2 separate regions of the Homo sapiens genome follow, and region 1 is linked to region 2. Evidence: fine-mapped expression QTL. A gene starts in region 2. The other region holds a variant in brackets. All regions are shown on one strand. Distances are from middle to middle. Region 1 has its middle 26 kb from the start of SEPTIN5. Region 2 holds the start of SEPTIN5 (septin 5).

The links. PIP is the estimated chance that this variant, and not a neighbour inherited with it, causes the effect.
Region 1: its variant is fine-mapped to the expression of SEPTIN5 in whole blood (TOPMed, PIP above 0.99).

The regions. Positions count from the first base shown.
Region 1 is chr22:19,683,344-19,693,096 of GRCh38, reverse strand. No RefSeq gene overlaps it. Among named protein-coding and RNA genes, the nearest start is that of SEPTIN5, 26 kb to the left of the region's middle. RefSeq lists enhancers at 569-1,128, 4,111-4,959. The variant C/T (reference allele first, on the strand shown) is at 5,160.
Region 2 is chr22:19,708,810-19,718,562 of GRCh38, reverse strand. It overlaps SEPTIN5 (septin 5), which reads right to left and starts at 4,060. Exons shown (of 12, transcript NM_002688.6): 1 at 3,932-4,060; 2 at 3,772-3,782. The coding sequence starts at 3,974. SEPT5-GP1BB (SEPT5-GP1BB readthrough) reads right to left here and starts at 1,343. Exons shown (of 12, transcript NR_037611.1): 1 at 1-1,343. It overlaps LOC124905079 (a long non-coding RNA gene), which reads left to right and starts at 3,768. Exons shown (of 2, transcript XR_007068003.1): 1 at 3,768-3,866; 2 at 8,729-9,573. RefSeq lists silencers at 1-124, 101-280, 291-710 and enhancers at 126-766, 767-1,408, 9,411-9,753.

The sequences.
Region 1 (9,753 bases), 25 kb after region 2:
GCTCACACCTGTAATCCCAACACTTTGGGAGGGCGAGGAGGGCAGATCACCTGAGGTCAAGAGTTTGAGACCAGCCTAGCCAACATGGTGAAATCCTGTCTCTACAGAAATACAAAAATTAGGCCGGGCACAGTGGCTCATGCCTTTAATCCCAGCACTTTGGGAGGCCGAGGCAGGCTGATCACGAGGTCAGGAGATCGAGACCATCCTGGCTAACACGGTGAAACCCTGTCTCTACTAAAAATACAAAAAATTAGCCGGTGTGGTGGCGGGCACCTGTAGTCGCAGCTATTCGGGAGGCTGAGGCAGGAGAATGGCGTGAACCTGGGAGGCGGAGCTTGCAGTGAGCTGAGATTGCACCACTGCACTCCAGCCTGGGTGACAGAGCAAGACTCCGTCTCAAAAGAAAAAAAAATTATCCAGGCATGGTGGCAGGCGCCTGTAATCCCAACTACTCGGGAGGCTGAGGCAGGAGAATCCCTTGAACCCAGGATCAGGCTGTGGAGGTTGCAGTGAGCCGAGATCACACCACTGCACTCCAGCCTGGGAGATAGAGCAAGACTCCATCTCAAAAAAAAAAAAAAGACTCAAATGGTAAATATATGTCATGTATATTTAACTACAATTTTTTAAAAAAGTAAATAATTAAAAATCAATCAAATGAAAAGTTGCAGGCCAATGGGCCTAGAGTGCTGCCGGGTGTATTAATATGTCGGCAAAAGAAAAAAATGCTCATGCATCCATGCATCCATGTGCCTGTACTTGTACACACCACCCTGGAAGGATACCAAAGAGCTGCCCCGTGAGCCGGTGACAAGGATGGCATTCCTTAGGTGGGTGGGAGCCCCAGGCAGGAATCTCCACAAGTGAGTCCTTTCATGCTCCTGGAACTTGGAATCTTGGGACTCTGTTACCTATTAGAAAAAGTTAAAAAATTAGTTGCCAAAGGAGGCCAAGCTGAGGGAAAAGAGCTAAAGCTTCCAGCAGCGATGGTGGCCCCACCCCACCAGGCCCCACCTTGGGCGGGGGCTCCCGGGAAGAAGCCAGCCTGTCCGGTGAAAGCTTGAAGCTCCTGTTCTGTAAGGAGCTGAGTAATGGTGACATACCAAGGCAGGTCAGCAGGGAAGAAGGCGACTTTGTTTATTCCTTCCCTCCTAACCTCACACATCTTCCGCTCAGAGGTCCAGCAGTGTGCGGTCGGCCCCGTCCCAGTGGCTAGACTGAACGATCTGCTGAGACCACGGAATTCTGAGCAGAAGGCGTTCCCAACAGCCACGCTCACACCCAGAGCACAAGCTCCCGGCCAAAAGCCGCCTCCCTCGGCTGCACAGGAATCTTAACATGCGGGATTATCCACTGAGGAAAGAGTGGAATGGAACAAACAGAAAAAGTGAAGGTTCCTGTAAAGGCGATTAAAATCGACTTAGTTGGCAGCCGAATGTTAACACTGCTGCAAAGCCTTAAAAAGAAAGCCAGCCATTTTATGCAGAATTTACATCCCAGCAGCCCAAGAAATGAGGCTCTTACCTAATTAAGGAGCAGTAACAAGGCATATTACTTGCTTCTGTTTTTATTTTTACCTTTCGGATAATTTCCAAATAAATTATTACCAAGCTGTTTTGAGGTTTGAGAATAAGAAGAAAATCTGATATTCAAAATAAGGAGTCGTTTCATGGTCTCTGACTGATAAACAGACATCCATTAGCAAAATGAGAGAGACACATTTTCCTAGATCAAATTTCCAAAGAAATGAAGTTTGTTGTGTTTTCTTGTCAAAATGCTGGCTGCCTCTGGTGTTTTGATGAAACATTTTCCTCTGGAGAATAAGAAGATTCTGGAAGTGTCTTGTGTGTTTGGAGGGCTAAATAGATGATAGACATAGTGATGCTGTTAGAAGTTAGGGCTCTCTTGTAGAAGGAGGTACAGATACGGAATGACGGACACAAGGAGGAGCCTGCAGGGCCGGGCAGGACTAGGAGTGACTGTGAATTCATGGTATGAGTTATTATGGATGCATTATAACTAATTACACGATAATTAAAATTAATAGTACAATCACATATTAATAATACAACTATATTAATAATATAATCACAATTCAATGATGTTTAATAGTATTATTAATTGTATATTTATTTATACATATTATAATAATCTCACAAATAATTTTTTTCTAGGATCTAAATGATACCATGGTAAAGTGAGCACAACTCATGCCTGGACCCCAGTGTGGAAGAAATACTCTGTTCTAAGAAAGCTGGCCTTGGTCGGGCGTGGTGGCTCACGCCTATAATCCCAGCACTTTGGGAGGCCAGGGCAGGAGGATCACTTAAGCCCAGGAGTTTGAGACCAGCCTGGGCAACATAATGAGACCCCATCTCTATAAACAATTTTAAAAATGTAATCAAGTATGATGTTGGGGACCTGTAGTCCCAGCTACTTGGGAGGCTGAGCCAAAGAGCCATGATCCTGCCAGGGCGCTCCAGCCTGGGCAACAGAATGAGGCTCCGTCTCAAAGCAAAGAAACAAAAACAAACAAACAAAAGGAAGCAGGGCTCCTCAGGGAAGTGGCTGCCTCCAGCGCTGCAGCAGTTAAAGTGCAGGCTGAGCCGGGTGCAGCGGTGGTGCCAGGAAGCAAGGGCGTGCTCCACCATGACAGGGACACGGGGCCGGTCAGCCAGCATCCAAACAAGCCCCACAGCCACTGAATATAACTCACCGAATCAAAGAAAACCCCACAAGCCTTCACTGGTAGCCAGAGGGGAGACTGGGCAGTTTTCCTTACGGTGGAAAGCCAACTACTAAATGGAGAAGAAATGAAGGAGTTAGAAAATCACTATGTTGAGTGGGCATAGTGGCTCACGCCTGTAATCCCAGCACTTTGGGAGGCCGAGACAGGAGGATCGCTTGAGCCCAGGAGTTTGAGACCAGCCTGGCCAACATGGTAAGACCTCATCTCTACCAAAAAAATTTTCAAAAAATTAGCTGGATGCTGTGGGATATACCTGTAGTCCCAGCTACTTGGGAGGCTGAGGCTGGAGGATCCTTTGAGCCCAGGAGTTTGAGGCTACAGTGAGTCATGATCACAGCACTGCACTCTAGCCTGGGTGGCAGAGTGACACCTTGCCAAAAAAAAAAAAAAATGGTAGCACAATGTAGATTTTTACAGAAGGAGCAAGAAAGGCCACGAAGCAAAATGTTTAAAAGCAACAACTTGAAGTGAAAGGTTTAAGGAGCTCATTGAGCTTTCCTTTTCTCCGGAAGACCCCAGAGAGAGCCCTGAGTGGGTCTGTGGCCATTGGGAGTCTCTGGCCACCACAACGGGAGCTTGTGGTCCTGTAGGAGCTGATGGATGGGTCAGCATCGCCTGGGCCGAGTGCCCATGTCTGCCATGTGACTCGTGGTCTTCCACAGCAGACACTCAGCTCTCTACATACAGGCGTGGCTGGTACGAAAGCCACAGGGGCTCCCCCAGGGCCCCAGCTCAGGGTCGGACGTGGGATGTGGCCGGCCCCAGACTCTCTGCTCGAGCTCATCTGTGCAGCCTCACAGGGGCTGGCCCTGCCACGGGTGCCCCTCCCGGGCCGTGCACCAGGAGGTTTCCACCCTGACCTGTGAAGATGCAGCGCTCTTCGGATCTGAGCAACACACTTCATTCAGGATGGGCCTTTCCCAGGACAGCACTGATGGGAGCTTCCTGTGCACACCTGTTGGGCTGTGCTTCTCCTCGGAACATCCGGTTAAGCAGGAATGGGGCCTGTGTTGGGGTAAGGGGCTGCTCCACTCCCTCCATGCCCCACCTGCAACTGTGCAACCACCTCCTGCATCCAGCCAAGCTGAGGGGTCCACATGGATGGTCAGCAGGGTTTCACCTGGCAGTGAGATCTGCCCCCTGCACTGGGGGGACGAGGGCTGGTCTGTCCTCATGTCCTGCCCCAGTGGCCACCCCAAGCCCCAAGGGAAAAGCAGCACAAGTGTGTCTGCTCCCCACTGCGTAAGGGCACCTGCTCCTCTTTCCACCGGCCAGCTCCTGGATGCCCCACACCCGCAGCCTGTGAGCAGAGGGTGGCAGGAGGGAGAGGAGGTGACAGAGAGCCCAGAGATAAAAGCCAATGTGTGGGCCACTCCTGAAGGCTGCAGGCACAGAGACAGGGGGCACCTATCAGGGCTTGGGGCTGAGAGGACGCCCAGAGCTGCAGGCGGAGAGCAGGGGTCACTGCCAAGGGCTCTGGCCAGAAAACCAGGCATGGGGCTCTGGGGAGCCTTCAAGGAAACAGGCCCGGGGCTGTGGGCTGAGGCGGGGCTCTGGTGAGACAGCTCCTAAACCCCAAGCCAGCATGGCCATGCTGGGTCCCTGACCTCCAAGGCCATTGCTCTGGGGGATAAGACACGCCCAGTAAGCAGGATCCCAACATCTACTCATCCCGGCAGCCTCTGGGCCTCTGCAAACCCTGCTCGGGGGGAAGAGGAGGCTGAGGGGGAGGCTGCACCAGGCAGAGCTGTTGGGGAAGGGCCCCTGGATGCCACATGTGAACCTCAGAGAGGGCAGGTGTGTGGGCAGGCACGGCCGGGCCACGGGAGCACGTGTCCGGGCAGGGAGAGGGCAGTGGGCCTGGGCTGAGCAGGTTGGGGGCCCTGCGAGAGAGACTAGGGAGGTCTCCAGAGGGGTGGCATGCCCAGGGTGTTAGGGAGATTGATGTGGCGGCAGCAGACCCCCGAGGAGGCAGGGGTGAAGGTGTCACCCAGGAGGCTGCAGACAGCTGGCCAGCCGGGGTCCGAGGGGCCAGTTAATGAGGAGAGAGCCAAGGGCCAACGTACCCAGGAGGAAGGAAGGAAGCCAGGCCAGGCAGGGATGGGTGGCGAAACACAGCGTGAGACCACAGTCATGAAGTAACTCCCGCAGCCGCTCCACTCAAGCCGGTCCTGAGGCGGTTTCCACACTTGTTGGCTGTGACTACAAATTAAAAAGCCAAGTGCAGACATCAAGGCTGCCCTGCAGCTGTGACACCCCTCCCCGCCCCACCCACCACGCCTCTGACTCCCAGCCGAGGGCCGAGAGCCCCTCCTGAGCACACCCCATCCACCCAGCTCCACAGTGTGCACAGGGTGTGGCAGCCTTGGATGCAGAGAAGCACCTTGCAGCCTCCCCAACAGGTTCC[C/T]GCTGGCCCAGTGCCAGCCCTTGCCCCAGTTGTGCAGGGACCTGCGGAGCTGTGCTGCAATTCATTTCTTTGGCAACAATGACCTGAGAGAGCCTGGCCTTAAGAGCGAAGATAAACGGGCTCTTCGACTAGGATGTCCTTGTCACAGCGGGAGGGAGATCTGCAGCTGGCCCTGCTCCCTTACCCCTTTGCACAACGTGAGGAGCCCCTGAGAAGAGCCCATGGACCACGCCGAAATGCAGGGTGCTGTGGGGTTCTCCAAGGAGGAGGCCAGGCCCTTGTCCTCAGCTCAGCCCCGGGGGAGGAACCCAGGGAAGGGGAGACAAATTTTGCAGGGATGTGGAGTCCCAGAGAGCAGGGCCCCTGTTCAGAGCCGAGAGGGGCCGCAGGGCGTGGGGGCAGAAAGAAGTGCAAGGGCTGTGCACCAAGGACACAGATCAATAGCCGGTTCCTCAGAGTGCAGCTGAAAAGCTTAAAAGCTTTGAAAATGCAATGTCTGGGTTCTGCCGGTGAGCACCTAATAGTGCTCTCTGAGAGTGGCCCCCGACTCTGCCTTTTTTTTTTTTTTTAAATGCAGATACCGGTTTAAAGCTAGACACACTCTCAGTTAAGTGTACACCAGCCTCACAGACTTCATGATCCAGACTTGTTCTACGTGACCCAAATTACACATGACTGCCTGTTATGTGCTTTAAAATATTTTTTAATTGAATTTTTTCTGTGGAGATCATTGTAGATTCACAGGCAGCTGTAAGAAATAACACAGAGAGGTCCCTTGTACCCAATGGTACCATCTTGCAACGGTAGGACATCATAGCCTGGATGCTGACACTGGTACGGTCAAGATACGGGATATTTCTGTCACCAGAGACTCCCTCCTGCTGCCCTTTTACGGTCACACGCACCTCCCTCCCACCGAAGCCCTTTCCTAACCTCCAGCAATGGCTGATGTGTCTTCCATTTCTAGAATGTTGATTTCAACAGTGTTATGTAAGTGGACATGGAATCATATAGTATATCATCCTTCAGGCCTGGCTTTTTCCACTTAGCATAATTCTTTGAAGATTTATGCCAGTTGTTGCAGGGATCAATAAAAACTTCAATTCTTTTTTTTCCTATCAGTATTGTATAGTTTTCAGTGTTCAAATTCTGCATTTTTAAACTTAATTTAATTTTTTAAATCTTTTTAGAGATGAGGTCTCACTTTGTCACCCAGGCTGGAGTCCAGTGGCATAGATCATAGCTCACTGCAGCCTTGAACACCTGTGCTCAAGTGATCCTCCCCTCTCAGCCTCCTGAGTAGCTGAGGCTACCAGTGCACAGCACATACCTATGTTCTATATATGTTAGATTTATACCTAAGTGTTTCATTTTTTGAGGGATTTTAAATGGTATTGTATTTTTAATGTCAGTGCCCATGTGTTTGTTGCTAGCATGTAGAAATAGAATTGACTTTTGATCGTTTATCTTATGTCTTGCGACCTTGTTAAACTCACTTATTAGTTCTAGGAGGGCTTTTTTGAGGGTAGATTCCTTGGAATTTTCTATGCAGAGACAATCATGTTATCTGTAAATGAGGGCAGTTTTGTTTCTTCCTTTCCTGTCTGTGTGCCTTTTATTTCCTTTTCTTGCCTTATTGTACTGGCTAGAACTCCCAGCTCTGTGCTGAGTAAGAGTGGTGAGAGCAGGCATCTTCTCTTTGGATCCTGGAAGGAAAGAACTTAGTTTTCACCATCAAGTATCACATTAGCTGGCCAGGCGCGGTGGCTCAAGCCTGTAATCCCAGCACTTTGGGAGGCCGAGGCGGATGGATCACAAGGTCAGGAGATCGAGACCATCCTGGCTAACATGGTGAAACCATGTCTCTACTAAAAATACAAAACATTAGCCAGGTGTGGTGGTGGGCACCTGTAGTCCCAGCTACTTGGGAGGCTGAGGCAAGAGAATGGCGTGAACCCAGGAGGTGGAGCTTGCAGTGAGCTGAGATCACGCCACTGCACTCCATCCAGCCTGGGTGACAGAGTGAGACTCCATCTCAAAAAAAAAAAGAGTATCACATTAGCTATAGGTATTTTATAGGTGCCCTTTACAAAGTTGACAAAGTTCCCCCTTTATTCCTAGTTTTAGAATTTCTGTTATGAATGAGTGTTGAATTTTGTCAAATGCTTTTTTTTTTTTTGAGACGGAGTCTTGCTCTGTCGCCCAGGCTGGAGTGCAGTGGCATGATCTCGGCTCACTGCAAGCTCCGCCTCCCGGGTTCACACCATTCTTCTGCCTCAGCCTCCCAAGTAGCTGGGACTGCAGGCACCCGCCACCACGCCTGGCTAATTTTTTGTATTTTTAGTAGAGATGGGGTTTCACCATGTTAGCCAGGATGGTCTCGATCTCCTGACCTCGTGATCCACCCTCCTCAGCCTCCCAAAGTGCTGGAATTACAGGCGTGAGCCACCATGCCCAGCCGATTTTTGTCAAATGCTTTTTGTGCATCAATTGATATGATTTTTCTTTGTTAGCCTGTGAATTCAGTGGATTACATTGTTTGCTTTTTGAATGTTTAACCAGTCATCCATTCCAGGAGTAAACTCCACTTGGTAATGGTGTACAATTATTTGTATGTAGTGCTGAATTCTATTTGCTAATATTTTATTAAATATTTTCTTGGTCTATATTCATGAGGGATATTTTTCTGAGATTTTCTTTTTTTCTACTATCTTTGTCTGGTTTTGGTATCACTGTAATTCCAGCTGCATAAAACAAATTGGAAAGTCTTCTTTCCTCACCTATTTTCTGGAACAGTGGTGATAAATTTTTCTTTAAAGATTTGATAGAATTATCTATTTAAACGATAGGAGTCCGGAGATTTCTTTTTTTAGGAGTTCTAAAATTATTAATTAAATTCCCTATTCAAATTATCTTTTTCATATTGGGTAAGTTGTGGTAGTTTGTATTTTTCAAGAAATTGGTTCATTTCATCCAAGTTGTCAAATTTATATGTATAGAGTAGAGTTATCATTCCTGATATTGGTAATCTATGTCTTTTTTTTTCTTTGGTCAGTATTGATAGAGTTTTGTCAGTTTTATTGACCTTTCAAAGAATCAGCTTTTGGCTGGGTGTAGTGGCTCATACCTGTAATCCCAGCACTTTGGGAGGCTGAGGCAGGAGGATTACGAGGTCAGGAGTTCAAGACCAGCCTGGCCGATATGGTGAAACCTCGTCTCTACTGAAATACAAAAGTTAGCTGGGCGTGGTGGTGCGTGCCTGTAGTCCCAGCTACTCGGGAGGCTGAGGCAGGAGACTCGCTTGAACCTGGGAGGTGGAGTTTGCGGTGAGCCGAGATTGCGCCACTGCACTCCAGCCTGGGCAACAGAGCAAGACTCCGTCCCCCTCCCCCCACAAAAAAAGACAATCAGCTCTTTCTTTCATTGATTTTCTCTATTATTTTTATAAGGATTTTATTAATTTTTGCCCTTATCTTTTATTATTTTCATCCTTCTGCTTGCCTTGGGTTTATTTTGCTCTTCTTTTCCTAGTTTCTTGAGGTTTTTGAGCTTATCGATTTGAGACTTTTCCTCTTTTCTAATATATGTGTTTAATGCTATAAATTTTCCCCATCCACAATGCTTTTTCTGTGTTTTGACATTTGTACTCCATTTTCATTCAGCTCAATGTATTTTTTAAAATATCTCTTGAAACTCCTTTTTCCCATGGATTACTTATAAATGAGTGGTTTAGTTTTCAAGTATTTGGAGGTTTTTCTGTTATCTTTCTGTTGATTTGTAGTTTGAATTCATTGTGTTTGGAGAACCCACACCATGTGATTTCAATTTTTAGAAAATTGTTAAGGTTTGTTTTGTGCCCCAGAATATGGTCTATATTGGTATATGTTTCGTGGGCACTTGGAAAGAAAGGATAATCTGCTGTTGGAATAAAGTGTTCAATAAATGTCAATTAGATCCTGTTGGTTGACGATATCATTGCGTGCTTCTATTTTCTTGCTGATTTTCTGTCTAGTTGATCTATCAATTGTTGAGAGAGGAGTGTTGACGTATCCAACCACAATAGTGGATTTGTCTATTTCTCCTTTCAGTTCTATCCCTTTTTGTTGTATATATTTTGCAGTTCTGTTGTTTGTTAGATAAATGTTTAGGATTACTATGCATTCTTGTTGCATTGACCCTTTTATTATTGCATGTCAGTCTTATCCCTGGTAAGTTTCTTTGCCCTGAAGTCTGCCTCATTTGATACTAATATAGCCACTCCTGCTTTCCTTTGATTAATATCTGTGTGAAACATCTTGAAGTGAATTTCTTGTAGATAGTATATAGTTGATACATGTTTTAAAATCCATCTTACCAATCTCTTTTAATTGGTGAGTTAAGACATTTACATTTAATGTAATTATTGATATGTTAGGATATAATTGTGCCATTTTATTTATTTATTTATTTATTTATTTTTGAGACGGAGTCTTGCTCTGTCGCCCAGGCTGGAGTGCAGTGGTGCGATCTCGGCTTACTGCAAGCTCCACCTCCCGAGTTCACGCCGTTTTCCTGCCTCAGCCTCCCATGTAGCTGGGACTGCAGGTGCCCGCCA
Region 2 (9,753 bases):
CGTCGACCCCCGAGGCCGACCGAGCCATCCCCCTGACTGGGCGAACTGGCCCCAAGCTGTGGCGGCGTCGCAGTCCGGGCAGGCCCCGCTCCCGCACCCGAGCCAGAGGCGGGGCGTCGCAGGCGCCCGCGGAGCGCGCGGCGGGGGGCGGCAGAGACGGCCCCGCCCGCCGTCGCCGGGAAACGGTCGCCTGGAAATTGGGCCGCGGGCGGAGCCACCCGAAAGCGGCTGCGGAGGGCAGGGCTGAGCCGAGGCGCGGTCGGGCCATGGCTCGCGTGGACCGGGAGCCCTGCCGCGCCCCCGGGGCCTCAGTCCGGGCTCCAGGACAGCAGGAGGGGACGACCGGGTCCTGCACGCGGGCCGGGGCGGGCCGGGAGTCGGTAGCCACCGCGCGTCCCGCCCCCAAGAGGTGCTGCGCGGCTTCCGCCCGCCAGAGGGCGCCGGAGGCCGCTCCCGGGACCCACGCGCAACAGCGCGGGTACCCGCCCAGTTCAGGGCCCGCCGTCTTCTCGCAGACTTGCCCGAAAACCTCCCGGCGGCGTCTCGACGCCCCAAGTGCCCACAGACACGCCGCGCCCTGCACCCCTCCCCAGCCCTGCTTGGGGCTGACCTCCCCCGTGCGTGCGTGCGTGCGTGCGCGCGTTTGTGTGTGCGCGTCCGTGCGGGTGTGTGTGTGTAATGTGTGTGTGTGTAATGCCTGCGTGTGTGCGCGTGTATACATGCGTGTATGCGTGTGTGTGTACGTGTGTGCATGCATTGGGTATGTGCGTGTGCGCGGGTGTGTGCATGTGTGTTTGGTGGACTCTTTCCCAAGACATTCGGGGGACCGGAGGAGGGCAGAGCCCACCTTTTCTGAAGTCCAGCCTGCCTGTCCCCTAGGAGGCTTAGGGTGGACAGAAGGGAAGGGAAGGGAAAGGAAGGGTGCAGGCTGCCGGAGTACTGGAGGTCCCTGCAAAACTTGGAAGCCCCCGCCAGCCTGCTGAATAAACGCCGGCCACCCATGCGCTGCCCTGCAGCCCTCAGGTGGCCCTGCCCTCAGAGACAGGGGTGGGGGTGGGATGGGACCCATCTCCCACGTGCTTCTGTGGACATTCCCTTGCCCTCTGAGCATCCTCACCAGCTCTGACCCACAGGATTGGAGGGACTGGGAGCTCCTGCCAGCCGGGCCTCCCTCCCATGTGGCTACTCCAGGGACTGCGGGGGTCTCCCGAGCTCCGCTCTGTGGGCCACCCACCTCCATGACCCCAGTAGAATCCCAACAGGCAAGCCCAGCGGAGCAGGACATGGGGCCTGGAAAGGTTCCAGGGTAGGACTGGTCAGGCCAAGCCCCTGCACATTAGAACATTAGAAGCTGGAGGCCCCAACCCCACCCCACCCCACCCGCCACCAGCCCTCCCTTAGGCTCTCCTGGCTGAGAGACCTCCTCCACTTCCTGTCCAGGCCCTGGTCCTGTTGTGGGGCCTGGACCACTGGCACCTGGGGAGGAGGGGCAGGCCCACAGCTGGGAACAGGAGAGCCTTTCATCCCAGGGAAAGGGGGCAGCTCCAGGCCCCCCAGCTCTACCAGTGCATCCCTCAGTCCTTGCTGCCAGAAAGCCTCCTCACTGGCCCCAGCCTTCCATGGCCCTGACCTGCAGGAAGCCTCTAGGCTGAGTCCCACCCAGTTTCCAACTGAGGGTCCACACCTCGAAGCCCAGCACCCACCCAGACAGGCTGGCATCTCAGGCCCAGGGCATCTCCAGGAAGACAGACAGCCCTGGGCCTAGGCCTCAGGCTAGGAGGTGTCTAACAGAGTGTGTGGCTCTCAGACTGCCTGCCTCAGTTTCCCCATTGGTAAGGCACAGCCTCTGGGGAGGCCCAGGTCAGGAGGGCAAGAATCTCACTCTCAGCGTTCAACCCACCTGCCCTGCCACCCACTGGGGCCCAGTCAGGGCCTGTGGATTCCCTGGGGGAGCCTCAAGGAAGGGGCCGTACCTGCCACCCCCTTTCTCTGGTCCCCAAGTGACAAAAGATACTCCCAGGGCTTCCTGAGCCATATGACACAGCTGCGCCCATCTCCTCCCAATGCCTGAGCCTCTCTGGCACTTCCATTCTTAGAATCACCCGAGTCAGCTCTGGGAGCAGCAGCCAGGGCCAAGAGATCACCGGTGCTGCCTGTGAGGAGGTGGGGGCACAGAGCGTAGTGACGGAACTCCCCCAATGCCTCTACAGCCCCCTTTCAAAGAGCAAAAAGAATGCTTGGACAGGCTGAGGCTCAGCAACGGTGGTAGCAGGGAAGCTGCCATGTGCTTCCAGCTCCCCCAGACCCACTGGTCACCCAGACACCTGGCCTGGCTCCTGCTCCGGGGCTCCCTTCCTTGGCCACACAGTGCCTTCTTCCTCTGGGCTTGGAGGCCTGGGAGGCCTGGGATGGGGTGAGGTGGACTCCCGGTTGACCTCAAACGATGGGCACCTCAGCAGGAGGGGGTCCCCACCCTGCAGTAATGGGCAAGAGAACCTGGCTGCACCCAACAGCAGTGGCTGGAGCCCAGGGTCTCAGAGTGCCCTTGGGTCAAGCTGGGGACACCTGCAGGCACAGGAGAAGCCTCAGGGGCCTGGCCTCCTGGCTTTCCCAGCCTCAGTTCCTTCCATTTCCCTCAAACAGTAGCCTGACGCATGTGTCCCTGCATCTCAGGCTTTGTCTGACCTGCTGTGATGGGGAGGCAGCTCCCAGCCTGGCTCCCCAAGGGGCCCCTCCCAGAGAGCCTCATCCACCTCTGGGTGGGGTGTGTCCCTTCCAGGAGAATGGCACTGGTCAGCCAGTGACTCCCCCAGCTCCTGGCCCCCCTGCCCGCCCTCCTGCCCTGCCTGCTGCACCCTGGGCCAGGACTCTGGAGTTCCACTCAGCATCCATGGCTCCTGAGAAACTCCATCCCTGATGGGGGCTGCCAGTGCCACCCTGGTGCCAGAATTGGGCTCTTCTTTTTTCCTCCAAAGATGGCTGAGCTCAAGCCAGAGAGGACACCAGCAGGCTTTCCCCAGCCCCCCCAGCCCACCTGGTTGTCAGCCCCCGCCCCACCCCAGGGGCCTCACAGCATTGTTTAACCCTGAGCTCGGCTGGGTTTCACCCAGGTGCCTAGACCAGCCTCCTGTCCAGTCTTGCTTTCCTGGAGGGTGGGGCCAACCCTTTTGAGAAGCCACAAGCCTATTTGTACCCACAGGGTCCCAGGACCCATCTGGGCACCCAGAATGACTCAGACCAGACCCTGGGGGTTCCCAATCTGGGGAAGAGTCCCTGTTGCAGACCTGAACACTCAAATTTGTGTATGGGGAGGGAAAGGGGCATGAAGGTGCAGGGGAGGTGGGTGGTGACCACAGGCCCTCTGCTGTAGGGCTGTTCAGGGACTGTGCTGGCTGATGGAGCCTGACTCCCCTCCCCCAGCGTGGCCTGCCACGACCATGGCCTCACCCAGGACCCCCAGCTCATGGCCTACAGGCCAGGTCAGCAGGAGATGCTGGCACTGGCCCTGTGGGAGGGGGACACTCTGCCCATCCCCCCATCCTGGGGAGGGGCGCAGGGTCCCTGCTGTGCGGGTCCGGGGACCAGGGCCCCCACTCCTCTCCTCTGAAGCCCCAGGCGCGGCGGCACTGCCCGGCTGACAATCGGTGATCGCGACAGGGCTGGGTGAGGGCCGGCGGGGGCGGGGTCGCGCCTGGGCGCCCAAGGCGCTAGTGTCACAATGGGTGACAGCCGGCCGGGTCTCCCGGCGGGGGAGCGGCGCTGCGCACGTACCTGCTTGTCCTCTGCGGGGTCGGGGTCGGGGTCGAGTCCGGGTCCGGTTCCGAGCGGGTCCGGGCCGGCGGGCGGGGGAGAGACGGAGAGACACGGTGAGAGGCGCGCGGGCGGCGGGGACAAAGGCGCGCGCGGGCACGCGGGCAGGCGCTGGGCTCACCTGGGGTCGCCAGCTTGCTCTTGTACCGCAGGCCTGTGCTCATGGTGGCCGCCGGCGGGGGACGTGCGGGGCGGGCTCGCGGGCGGGGCGCGACGACAAGCGGCGGAGGCCGAGGCCGGGCTGCGGGGTGAGCGGCCCCTCCGCGCCGCCGCCGCCGCCGCCCGCTCCGCCCGCGCGCCCGGCAGCCAATCGGCGCCCGCCGCGCCCACGCGCGACCCAGGGCGGCCCGGGGGGGCGGGGACCCAGGTCCCCCACCATGGACCCGAGACCACGGCCTCGGGGCGACGCCCTCGCCTCCTACAGCCCTGGCCGCGCCCGGGGTCACCCGACCAGACCCGCGCCGCCCCCGCCCTGCACGGCTGTTCCTGCCGGCCTCCTCCCCGCCACCTCCCCGGTGCCGCAGCCCAGGCCCAGCCTTACGCTCCCCCCGCCCTCGCTGGGACCCGGGTCCATGCCGGTCCTCGGACCATCCGTCCGGTGGCCCTTCTCTAAAGCCTGCCCTGGCTTTCCGGGCCAGACCCTGCACGCTCCGCCCCACCCCGCCGAGGTCAGCAGGGATGGTCCTGGCGCGGCTGGCCAGTGCCCAGCATTGCCCCTGCTGACCGCTCGGTGCTGCGCAGACCTGCTCTGCGAGCAGACGCACCTGGCAGGCTGTAGGCCACAGGCTTTTGGGCAGTGGTCCGGCCTCTCTCTTCCTGGGCTGTAAAATGGGATTATTTGTGAAGAGGAGTGATCTGAGGTGTCTGGCAGGACCGGCCCTGACCGTCTCACCCCAGCTCTGCGCCTGCTTCTCTGCTGACCCATAGGCTGTGGGGATGCTCCAGGCAGACCCGATCCCACCCTGCGGAGAAGGCTTGTAGGGGACCGAGGGGCACTGTGAAGGCAGGGCCAGGGCCTGCACCCCATTTACAGAGGGGGAAGTTCAGGCCCTAATCTTCAGTGAGTCAGCCAGACTCAGTGACTGAGAGCAAGTCTCTCCGGTCATTTGTGTCACTATCACATTCCCAGGTGTCCTCCGCCTGGACTTTCCCAAAGTGTCCCCAGGCGGCATCTCTGAAGGCTTTGGGGCTGTCAGGCTTGCGGTCACCACCTCCCCAGGTGAGGGCCCCCTTGTATGGAGATGTCTCCTGCACCCCGTATAGACAGTACCTCCACAGCCAGGGAATCCGCCTCTGCTCCCCACCCGTCCTGTGCCCCTTGGTCCCTCTGCTGGCCCGTGGGCTCCCTGGGTGGAGGGGGGTGTCGCTAGGGCCTTTCCATCTCTGAATCACCAGCACCCAGCACGGTAAGTGAAAAATTCATGTAAGCCGCGTCTTTGTTCCACAGTCCTTGCTCTGCTGCATTCTGTGGCCAGAGCGCCGTTGACCATAACCCTGCTCTGGGTCTAGAACTCTAACCAGTGTAGGGATCCCCCACAGTCCCAACCTCTCATCCAAGATGTGTTTGGAACTCAGGCTTTTTTGTATACATCATACATTATGTGGCACCTCTTTGGAACCTGGGGCTGCTCCTCATAATCAGACCCATTTATATTTTCGGGGCAAAACATATGTATTCAGGTGAACTGGAAGAAATAAAGACAGTAAGTGATGGCGCATCGTTCAGGTCCAGCTTTGCCACTGAGTTTTGAAAAACCTTTATGTTTCTGAGCTTTGGAGAATTTGGAATTTCGATAAAGAAATGTGTGTTGAGGTCAGGAGATCAAGACCATCCTGGCTAACACGGTGAAACCCCGTCTATTAAAAATACAAAAAATTAGCTAGGCATGGTGGCACATGCCTGTAGTCCCAGCTATTCAGGAGACTGAGGCAGGAGAATCACTTGAACTCAGAAGGCGGAGGTTGCAGTGAGCCGAGATCGCACCACTGCACTCCACTCCAGCCTGAGCCAAAGAGCCAGACTCCGTCTCAAAAAAAAAAAAAAAAAAAAAAAAAAAAGAATGTGTGTGTGGGGGTAGGGGCACTCAAAGGGCCAGGCAGGACTTCTGAGCATAGACAGGACTTTTTGGAAAGAATTGGAAAATGATGGTTGGCTGTTCACCACGTGCTGACCCATGCAAGCCTGTGCTTGTGGAGACAAAGGAGGAGAGACAGGAGCCCTGCCCAGGGGGAGGCAGGCAGCCTGTGAAAGGCACCAGCTCAGCGCCCCTCCCCATGGCTCAGGTGGCAGGGCAGCTCTGGACAGCCTTGGGTTAGGGGGTTTGAACTTGGCCTTGAGACAAGTGCATAGCAGGTCAAGGGCATAGCTCAAAGGGTGGGAGGCACATGTATACAGGAGTAATAGGTTTTAAAACAAATCTGGAGATAGAAGACAAGAAAGATGAGGAATACGGCATAAACATGATCTTTTTTAAAAAAGTCTGTCCCAAAAGATTACTTACAGAAATGCAGTTAGATTGGAGACCAGTGTTTAAGGGACAGCCAGCCTGGAGGCTGATGGAATATATAGGACTGGGAGCCACTCCTTGGAAGAGTGAAGTCAAGGGTGGTCCTGGGTCAGCGCCTCATGTAAAATGCCTGGGCTGGAAGGGGGAAGCGGCATCTGCTCCCTTACTCTGGGACTTTGGTCACCATGACTGTGAGTGCAGGGACAGCCCGAGTCCCTCCACAGACACATCGAGGCTGCACCCTGTCTAGCTGGGAGGCCTGCTGGATGGCATAGTGTCTGCATGGGACATTTCTGAAGTCAGGAAAATGGGTCATGAGGGCATCGGTCAGCAGACGCGTCTCCAGTTCTGCCAGGTGAGGCTTTGAGATACTGGCCACCACAATGGAGGCTGACAGCCCAGTGAAACCCTTATTATGCTCCTGTTCACCAAAAAGCCAACCAGGCAGGCCTGGTGGCTCACGCCTATCATTGTAGCACTTTCGGTGGCCAAGGTGGGAGGATGACTTGAGGCCAAGAGTTTGAGACCAGTCTGGGCAAGAATGTGAGACCCCGTTTCTATAAAAATTAAAAATTAAAAAAAAAAAACTGGCTGTGGTGGCATGAGTCTGTAGTCTCAGCTACTCAGGAGGCTGAGGCCAGAGGCTCACTTGAGCCTGGGAGTTTGAGGCTGCATGCAGTGAGCCGTGATGGTGCCACTGCACTCCAGCCTGGGCAACAGAGTGAGACCTTGTCTCAAAAAAAATGAAAAAACAAACAAACAACACCCAAGCCTTGGGGCTGTGGCTGATATCAGGGGGGCTGGAGCCACAGGGCAGTGGTCTGAACACACACACTTACCTCTCCAAGATGCCATGGCTTGAAAGAAAACTGCCTGCCAAAGTGGGTGTGTGCATCCACTTTCCCCAGCAGGCAGAGGAAGCGCTGGCTGTGGTACAAAAAGAAGTAAATAAAGCACTCCTTTGTGGAAAAAAAAATGCTATTTTTTAATTCATAAGGAAAAGAAGTTAATGAATAAAAAAATAAGCTACACCAAGAAAAATCTGTTCAACCAACTTGGGCTACAAATAGCTTGACTCTTTTCAGAAAAAGCCTCTTAGTGAAGAAATTCTCCAGAGGCTGCATTTGAACCATGCTGGGCCTCCCTCAGCACACAGGGGAGTGAGCGCCCCAGGGCTGGGACCCGGAGAAGGATGGAGCTGGTGGGGAGGTGGCAACGGTGATGGCGACGAAAGAATAAGGCACCTGCCATTGGCCCTTGGGAGCAGGTCTTGTGGGTGACAGGCTTCAGAGGGGGAGCAGTTTGCTCCAGGTGACACATGTCGCCACACTCCCAAGCCTGTCATCTGCAGTTAGGGCTGAGGCCACCACTGACAGGTTCCAGATGGCTCAGTCCATCTGAGGCTGAGGATGAGGGAAGAGGCCAAGATGCATGCAGGGTGTCAGGCACCTGAGAGCCCCACAGGCCTACCTGCATGATCAACTCGGGCAACCCTGACCTGTGCTGGGAATGGGGTGTTTTTTCACCCTGAGTAGACGCAGGAAGTGGAGGTCAGGGCGCGGTGGAGATCTGCTTGAGACTAAACAGCCGAGACTAGAACCCACGACCGTGGAGCCCAGGCCTGACTCCTGCAAAGTGCTGTGACCTGGTCGCGGCCCAGCCAGGGGCTGTCCCAATCAGGCAGCTGCTCGAGGCCTGAGCTCACATCCCTTCTATCCCCTGAATTCACCAGCAACCTGGTGGGTCCCAGATGATCCTCCTGACCCCTGCATTTTTCTACTGCTCTCATGCTCCTGTCCCTGCTGTTCCTGAAGCCCTCGCCCGCCAACCCTGTGAGATTTGAACCCACCCCCAGTACCTGGGGGCTCCGAGGGAGGCCGTGTGACCTGCAGCTTCATGCCCCTGCACCTTGGCACTAGTGTGCCCCCTGCCTGGGCTGCCCTTCTCTAGCTCTGCCGACCCAGCAGCACTGTCTCCAGCCCCTCCAGGCCCACCGTGCCCTATGCTGGCCTCTCTTCTGCAGGACATGGCCTGCCAGGCAGCAGACTCCCGACTGGCTCCCTGGCCCCCACACTCAGCCCCTGTCTGGCACCTGGGAAGCTCAGCAGCATCAGCTCCTGCTGGGTGGGGGCACAGGCTCCTAGGCGTGGATTCACAGGGCGGGCAAGGAGGGCCTGACTAAAGAGCCAGGCTCTGGGGAGCTTCAGACTGCATATTCTGAATCCCAAAACCTCTACTGTCTGCAGAGGGGTGCTTGTGTGCTCAGCCCAGCTCAGGGGGGTGTGCGGAGACCAGGAGGTTCTGGGGCGTCCTCCCTGCTCCCAAAGGCAGTGGCTGTCACCGAGCACAAGGGGAAGTGTGTGCACAGTGAGGATTCTACTGAAGAATGTTTTCCTTGATCTCCTTTTCAGAAAAATGTAAGGGGGTCACTGCACAAATCAGTCCTCATCACCGATGGGAAGACATGCCCATTAGAAGAGCACAGAACCCACAGCAGCTGTCTCTGCCTGGAGGGTGCGGCCTGGTCCTGCTTAAAGCCGCCTATGTCTTGCAGCGGTGGACAGAATAGGGCTTCAAGGGGGCTGAGTCTCAGTCCACACCAAGTCCCCGATTCCCTGGGCAGCTGGAGTGAGTGCTACAAAGGGCGCCTGTGCTCCACGGCAGGGAGCCAGCCTGGATCCAGAGCTGAGGGTCTGAGGGAGGTGGGTCTGCAGCCACATCTGATGGGCCTTCAGAGTCCCCTGAAGGATCTGGGACGGCGCCTGCAAGATAACACAGAGAGCAGCCCAGGGTAGGGACCAGGCGTGCAGTGTGACTCAGCTGGGAAGAGCTCCCCACGGTAGGGGGCGGAGGGGAACCCTCCACAGGGATGCTGCCTGAGGGGGCTGCACGGGACCATCCCCAGGCTGTCCCGGCAGGCAGAGGTCCTCACTGCAGTTCTGTGATTTTATGAGAAGCTGAAGGTGGAAGAATAGCAGATGAATGAAGAGATGTGAAATGGCACCAATGTTGATATTCTCCTGTGTCATGCATGGAAGCATGACAAACATCCCACGGGAGCAAGCGCTTGCGAAAGGCAGAGAGCAGGGCCAGAGCACGGTGACCTAGATCCTGCGGCTCACCCCACCCCTCCATCACAAAGAGCTCAGCGCTGGGCTCCAGGGACTGGCTCCAGCTCCCCACTGCATCTACCTCCCAGTCAGGCAAGAGAGATCTGAAAATCACTCTGGAATAAACAGGACCCTACTGTCCCGTCTTCAGGACCTCTGTTCCCTGGACCCTGGTGCTGCGTGCAAATGCACTGCCTGTTGCACACCCAGGCTCCCACGGGGAAGGTGGTTGCCAGAGCCCTCAACTTGGCGGCCCATCACCTGGTTTCGAGGCCTCAGGTGATGGCCATACCTGGGTGAGGATGAGGACCCCAGTCTCAGCTCAT